2 linked regions of the Homo sapiens genome follow. The protein of the gene in region 2 interacts with the protein of the main gene of each other region in a pairwise test. Each region holds a gene or a part of one and is shown on either strand. Other genes may lie near its edges.

Region 1 (3,912 bases), on a different chromosome or scaffold from region 2:
AAAGAATACTGAATTAACTTTTGCTTACCTTTTGCAAAGGAACTTTGAAAGCAATGAAACGAGTCCCAGGCATCCGCTGTCCAACTGGGAGATAGTCTTTCCACCTATTAGATATATTTTTTGTTAGCCAAATTGTATGTTAGCCTTGTTTCCTTGCACAAAATAAGACTTTTTGAAAATGGGAATCATAGCCCGCACAACATGTCCTCTCTCCTCTCTGCTTTGCATTTCGCCACTCCACTTATTAAACCCCACCAAGTAACGACCTATACCGTCCTTCTCTCCTGTTTCCCCATCATAAAAACGAACACAAGCCAACACAACAGTACAACTCAAATAAGGCCTATATAAAACCGGAGATACCCAGAACTTCTGTATCCCTGTTAAACTTGGCCCAGTACCAGATACTAAAGTGCCATTAATACAAACATATTCACTGAAATAATTTAAATTCAATTATTTCACTTCACGCTTTTAGTTTTCATACGACTGATGCCATAAAGTTCAATTAGTAGGAAACTTCAAGTTCATATTTTAAGAGAAAACCTGCTAGAAGAGGGACTGTGAACTTCACTTAATAATGCTAGGAACTGGCCGGGCGCGGTGGCTCACGTCTGTTAATCCCGGCAATTTGGGAGGCTGAGGCAGGTGGATCACCTGAGGTCAGGAGTTCGAGACCAGCCTGACCCACATGGTGAAACCCCATCTCTACTAAAAATACAAAAAAAATTAGCCGGGTGTGGTGGCGGGCGCCTGTAATCCCAGCAACTTGGGCGGCTGAGGGAGGAGAATCGCTTGAATCCGGGAGGCGGAGGTTGCAGTGAGCCGAGATTGGACCATTGCACTCCAGCCTGGCGGAGAAGAGCAAAAATCCATCCCAAAAACAAAAACAAAAAAACGGATTGGAAGAAAACAAACAGGAGATTCACTAATTAGAACCCCACTGCAATAAGTCAGGCAAGACCTGTATTAGGGTACTGACAGAAAGTGACAGTCAAAAGATAGTAGATAAAATGAAGAGGATTTATTGAGGTATGAGATGGTGGAGGATGGTCTCAAGGAGTAAAAACAGTTCAATGCACCTACGTGCAAAGTCTCAAAATTAATCATTTGTACGTATAAAGGAGTTATCTTTCAAATGAGGCCTGTTAGGAAGTAACAAAGTATGCTCTTTGTGATTTCTGGAAACAATACAAACCAACTTTCCATGTGAGATCTCAGGGCGCTACTACTGCTGGGTTCCTAACTCAAACCATTACACTTTCCGTGCCAACGTAACAAGGAATTGAGGAGGTTCCATTTTGGGAATTAAGGAGTGTCCCCAACAGTAACAGTCCCACCTTAAAGCAATCCTTCCGTATTTTACCTAAGAGCAATGGCCAGAACCTCCCTTTTACAAGAATATGGAGAAATCACAGGACATCACAGACATCGCCCCTTTCAGCTACAGCGGGTGGCGCAGAGGGTCAAAGCCTCAAAGCAAGCGGCGGACAAGTCAAGCTTGCGATGGCAACGGCGAGAGGCAGAGACCACAAACGATGAAGCCCAGACCCAGAAGCCACGAGCTGGAAAGGCCACGCCAAGGGACCAAGACATACTACCTTTCGGGGATGTGGTTTCCGCCCTTCTTCTTGGCTGAGGAGCGTCCTGAAAAGTCGCGTCTCCGGCCCCAGCCACTGCGGGGATGATGCCACTGGCTCATGTGGGTCCCAAGAAGCCGCCCACCCAATGCCAAGTCGGCCAAAAGCGCCAGTCCGGCGCCCTCAATGCCAGGATAAGACCCTAAACAGGAAAAGACTCGGCAGCCACCTACGCCGCGCTCCAGCGTCTCGCTATTGCGCATGTGCCACCGCCGGTCGTGATGGCGTAGCCACGCTGGCTTACTGAGACTCCTGATCTGTAAACAGGACTTTGGTGGCTACAGCGCCCTCTTTAGCCAGAGGCCAGTAGCACAGGTCAATAAGGGCGTGTATGCACCCTTCAGAATTCAAACAGTGAGGCACAGGGAAGTCCCTCTGCCCGATCCGCCCCACGCCCCGGTTCCTTGTGTGTTCTTCTAGATATTTACCAGCGCTTACATTCACATTTTGCATATTTTGTATACATATTTACTTTCACATATATGTATATCCTCTATTTTTATACAAAAGGAGTAACTGTACATATTCTACAGTATACCTTAAACACTGATTATCCCAGTCAATTTATGCATACATAGATTCTATTTTTAATGGCTATAGGCAATTTACTTGCTTATGAGTAACATAATTAAAAGTACCATAACGTATTTAGCCAGTTCAATATTAATGGACCTTTAGTTGTTTTCAGGTTCTTTTCAAATCTTGTTACAGACAATGCTGCAATGTGAACATCCTTATACATATATACAACTATATCTAAATTCCTAGAAGTAGAATGTCTGGAATGAAACACATACAAACTTAAAATTTGGAAAGATACTACCTAATTACCCTCCAAAAATAATGTAGAAACATACACTCCCATCAAAGCCAAACTTTTATTGGGTTCCTATCACATACCAGGTATCATGCTAGAGGTGGACAGAATGTATTTAAGTTTTAGCAAATACAAAAAATAACTGAGAGTGGAGCTCAAGTCCAAGGTTTCCACACAGTCTCAAGCATAAAGATCTGTACCCGTTAGAAAAACGTTCAATTCTGCTAAAAGTGGAACTACAAAGGACAGCATACCCTATAGCAGCTTTGAAAATAGAATAGAGTACTAAATTCCAGATTAAACTGTAAGTAATTATGATTGCAGACTTTTTTTTTTTTTTTTTGAGACCCAGTCTCACTCTGCCACCAGGCTGGAGTGCAGTGGTGCCATCTCAGCTCACTGCAACCTCCGCCTCCCGGGTTCAAGCAATTCTCCCTGCCTCAACCTCCTGAGTAGCTGGGACTACAGGTGCATGCCACGACTCCCAGCCAATTTTTTGTATTTTAGTAGAGACAGGGTTTCTCCATGTTGGCCAGGATGGTCTCGATGTCTTGACCTCATGATCAGCACTCCTCGACCTCCGAAAGTGCTGGGATTACAGGCTTGAGCCACCGCACCTGGCCAATGGCAGATTTTTGAAAGTAATTTTTACTTCTTAGTTTCTAATTTATGAAAGTAACTTACATATATTTTTAGTAATCTTTGCAACCATTTCAGAGCTGGGTAAACCAAGGATAAGAAAGGTCAGAGCTATTGAATAAATGAATATTAATAAAGCTAGACTGCTAGCTTTATTAACATTTTTGAGACAGTACTTTTCCAACCAGTTTTAAATACATAAACATTTACAATTCTGAAAATTTCCACATCATTAAAAATGTGTCAATATTCATAAATTGTTCATTGGAAAAAGAAAAAGACAGGATAGCAGAACATAACAAACCTACAATTAGGAACATTTAATTATTTGTTGTTGTTGTTGTTGAGATGGAGTCTCTCTCTGTCACCCAGGCTAGAGTGCAGTGGCGCGATCTCAGCTCACTGCAACCTCTGCCTCCTGGGTTCAAGCAATTCTCCTGCCTCAGCCTCTTGAGTAGCTGCGACTACAGGCGTGTGCCACCATGCCCGGCTAATTTTTGTATTTTTAGTAAAGACAAGGTTTCACCAAGTTGGCCAGGCTGGTCTTGAACTCCTGACCTCAAGTCATCTGCTCTCTTCGGCCTCCCAAAGTGCTGGGATGACAGGCGTGAGCCCCTGCGCCCAGCCCACATTCAAATTTGACATTAAATTGTAAAATATTGTGGCCGGGCATGGTGGCTCATGCCTGTAATTCCAGCACTTTGGGAGGCCGAGGCGGGCAGGTCACTTGAGGTCAGGAGTTAGAGATCAACCTGGCCAACATGGTAAAATCCTATCTCTACTAAAAATACAGAAATTAGCTGGGCGTGGTGGCTC
Region 2 (3,912 bases):
GTAATCCTAACAATTTGATCCGCTGAGACGGGAGAATCACCTGAGCTCAGGAGTTCCAGACCAGCCTGAGCAACATGGTGAAACCCCTAATTTATCAATCTAAAAAAATAAGAAGGAAAGAAAAAAAGCTAAATACACACCATGGCACTTGACCCATAGCAACTGTTGAAAAACCACAATGGCACGGTTACTAAATAAGCGAGGCATAGCCTTCTCCGGCTTAGGGGTAAAAATGCCCAGTTCCGGTTTTGAGGCAAATGAGGAGATACTAGGGATGAGCTGTCAGAGTCGACTCTTCAGCCATCAACGCCTCGCGGTGCTTCCTGCCTGCCCTTCCTCAGATGCTCCCCTTGCCCTATCAATACGTCCACCCCAGGTAGGTCGGACACCCTACGAACATTCCGCGTTCCCCGGGAGCAAATGATGCTAGGAAAACAGGGTGCGGGCTCTTATTTGGCCGGAGTGGAGTGACCAGGTCAGCGCCGCAGCTGCTAACCACCACCAACCACAGTTTTGAAAGTTCCTGGGCTTTTTCCGGCCTGAGGGCCGACGCTGTTTGCAAAATCACAAGCACTCCTTAGAGCGGGGTTAGGAATCTAGAGTTTCCAAATCCCTGGAACCTTTAGCATCTCGCCAAGCCTCCCTCATCAAAGGAGGGAAGTGAAATCAGAGCCCCACTCCGGCTGTTTTAGAAGTTTTCCCGAATCCGTGATCCCTTTACAAAGCCCGGGCCCTGGCCTGCGGGGCGGGGCGCGCGAACGGCGAGCTATTCCACCAGAGATCCCTCCACGACCTCCAGCGGCATCCGCGACCCTGCAGCTTGCTCTCCAGCCACGGCGAGCACGGGCCGGGGGAGAGGCGAGCGGGAAGGGCGAACGGCGACCCCCGCGCTGCCCCGCGGCCGCTTCCCCCTACGGTGCTGCCCCAGGCAGGAGGCGGACAAGGCTCATTTGGACCCCCCGAGGCCGGTGCAGGCGGGCTTGGGCCCTCCAAAGGCTCAGCTTTTGGGTTTCTAAGTAAAATATTGGAATAATAAAAATAAAGGAAGTGACGACGGCGCGAAGGACGGCCCGGGCCTGCGAGGAGAGGCTGCCTCATCCTCCACCCGTGAGGGGGCGCCGTGAGGGGTCTGCGCGGAGGCGGGGGGAGGGGAGGCCGGGGGGAGGGGAGCCCTGGGGGAGGGGACAGCAGGGAAGGCGGGGGCCTCAGGCACCGAGGAGGAGAGGGCAGGGGCGCGGGGGCCTCACCGGGGGTCCTCGAAGCGCACGAAGGCGAAGGGCACGAGGCCGTGCCGGTTCTTGAGCTCGATCTCGCGGATGCGGCCGTACTTGTAGAACAGGTCCTCCAAGTCCTTCTCGCGCACGTCGGTCGGAAGGTTCCCCACGTAGATGCGCCCGTCGCCCTCGCCGCCGCGCTCGTCCGCCCAGCCCGACATCCGCACCGCCCGACGCCGCGGGCCCGCCGCAGCCCACGTCGCCGCCGCCGCCTCAGCACGGGTCCCCCCGCAGCGTCCCCGCGGGCTCCGAGGCGCTCAGCCGCACTGCATTGTGGGAACGCGGAGCGGAAGCGAAGGGGTCGGCGGAGGCAAAAGGAGTCCTCTTAAAGAGAACGCGGCTGCGACCATTGCGCGTGCGCGCAGGCCGGCGCCCCCTGGAGGTGCGAAGGGCCTTCGGGCGCTGACAGGGAGAGCCTGGGGCCGGGCCGTGTGGATGCCATCCCCGAGCGCGGTTCGCGCTCGGCTGAGGCGCTGGACAAGTGGCTTGGGCTCCCGCGCCTCAGTTTCTCTCTGTGGCGCCGCCTACCTCACAGACTTGTGAGCACTCACTGACGTGGGTAGCGCCCAGGGCCTGCGGGGCGCAGGAGAGCTGGAGTCAGGCGGAGACCGCAGGCTGACCCCGCAGCGGCCGGGCTGTCGCGGCCCCCACCTCAGGTCAGTAGGCCCCCGGGCCACCCTGTCCCCATTTTACAGTTGCTCAGAACTGACGGTGTCAGCATGAGATGGACTCCATAGCTTGGCCTTGAGTTTGTCGGAGTCGAGGGAGTAAGACTCTTAATGAGTATCACAGCGATCACTATAGAGTGCATCCGACTTGTGCTTTTCATCCTCTCCCGGGCAGAGTCTGAGGCCACAGAGGGGTCAGGAATGGAACCCAGAGCCATGCTCCCATCCTAAGTACTGAGTCCTTATGGAGCTCAGGTAGACACCCACCTTGGCACTTACTTTTCCACATTCACATCCCAGAACGCGGAGCATTGAACCCAGGGACCTTACAGTGAGGCCTTGCACCAGAAGACTTTTTGTTTGTTTTTGATACAGGGTCTTATTCTGTTGCTCAGGCTGGAGTGCAATGGCGCGAACACGGCTCACTGCAGTCTCGATCTCGCTGGACTCAGGTGATCCTCCCACCTCGGGGCGCCGTGAGGGGTCTGCGCTGCGTCCAGCTAGTTTATTTTCTATTTTTTTTGTAGAGAGGCTGGTCTCGAACTCCTGGGCTCAACCGATCCTCCAGCCTTGGCCTCCCAAAGTGTTGGATTACCGGCTTGAGCCCGGCGCCCGGCTGGAATACTCCTAACCTAAAGATTGTTCAGGCTGGGTGCGGTGGCTCACGCCTGTAATCCCAACACTTTGAGAGGCCAAGGCGGGAGGATCACTTGAGGTCAGTAGTTCGAGACTAGCCTGGGCAACATGGGGAAACCCCGTTTCTACTAAAAATACAAAAATTAGCTGGGCGTGGTGGCGTGTTCCTATAATCCCAGTTACGCGGGAGGCTGAGGCAGGAGAATTGCTTGAGCCCGGGAGGCGAAGGTTGCAGTGAGCCGAGATCATGCCACTGCACTTCAGCCTGGGTGACAGAGTGAGACTGTCTCAAAAATAAATAAAGATTTTTCATATTAAAAATGAAACCTGGCTGGGCGTGGTGGCTCATGCCTGTAATCCCAGCACTTTAGGAGGCTGAGGTGGGTGGATCACTTGAGGCCAGGAGTTCAAGACCAGCCTGGCCAACATGGCAAGACCCGCCCCCCTACTAAAAATACAAAAAAAAAAAAAAATTAGCCAAGCTTGGTGGCACGCCTGTAGTCCCAGCTGCTTGGGAGGATGAGGCACGAGAATCGCTTGAATCTGGGAGGCAGAGGTTGCAGTGAGCCGAGATTGTGCCACTGCACTCCTCCAGCCTGGGTGACAGAGGGAGACTCTGTCTCAAAAACAAGACAAAACAAAAACAAACAAAAAAAGGGACTAAAACCACACATTTAATCAGAAGGTAGTTGATTTCTCATTATACCATCTGAGCATTTTAAAATCAAAACAAACCAAAGACTAGACACCCACATATACTACTGAGTGTATATCTTTTTTGGAATACAAGTTGATAGTATACATCAGGCTTTCATAATATACATATACCCTTCGATCTTGTAATTCTGCTTGTAGGATTTTTTGTTTGTTTGTTTTGAGACGGAGTCTTACACTGTCACCCAGGCTGCAGTGCAGTGGCGTGATCTCGGCTCACTGCAAGCTCCGCCTCCCAGGTTCATGCCATTCTCCCGCCTCAGCCTCCTGAGTAGCTGGGACTACAGGTGCCTGCCACCACGCCCGGCTGATTTTTTTATATTTTTAGTAGAGACAGGGTTTCACCGTGTTAGCCAGGATGATCTCAATCTCCTGACCTCGTGATCCGCCTGCCTCAGCCTCCCAAAGTGCTGGGAATACAGGCGTGAGCCACCGCGCCCAGCTGCTTGTAGGATTTTTATCAGACGGAAATAAGCAAGAGATTCTCATAATAAATTACATGTGTATATTTATCATTGCATTCTGTGCAATTAAAAAAATTAAACTTGATAATAAGGGAGTGGCTCAACACATTAACTTTGAATGTTACACAATTATTAAGTCATGTTTTTAATATGACA

The links.
Region 1: the proteins of SRSF9 (region 2) and DUSP11 interact in a two-hybrid assay, tested with the Homo sapiens proteins (one study listed by BioGRID).

Annotation. Positions count from the first base shown.
Region 1 is NC_000002.12:73,778,273-73,782,184, forward strand, and holds the start of DUSP11 (RNA/RNP complex-1-interacting phosphatase), read right to left. Parts: upstream 1,703-3,912; coding exon 1,602-1,702; intron 105-1,601; coding exon 29-104; intron 1-28. UniProt on the Homo sapiens protein: Possesses RNA 5'-triphosphatase and diphosphatase activities, but displays a poor protein-tyrosine phosphatase activity. In addition, has phosphatase activity with ATP, ADP and O-methylfluorescein phosphate (in vitro). Binds to RNA.
Region 2 is NC_000012.12:120,468,175-120,472,086, forward strand, and holds the start of SRSF9 (serine/arginine-rich splicing factor 9), read right to left. Parts: upstream 1,575-3,912; 5' UTR 1,436-1,574; coding exon 1,248-1,435; intron 1-1,247. UniProt on the Homo sapiens protein: Plays a role in constitutive splicing and can modulate the selection of alternative splice sites. Represses the splicing of MAPT/Tau exon 10.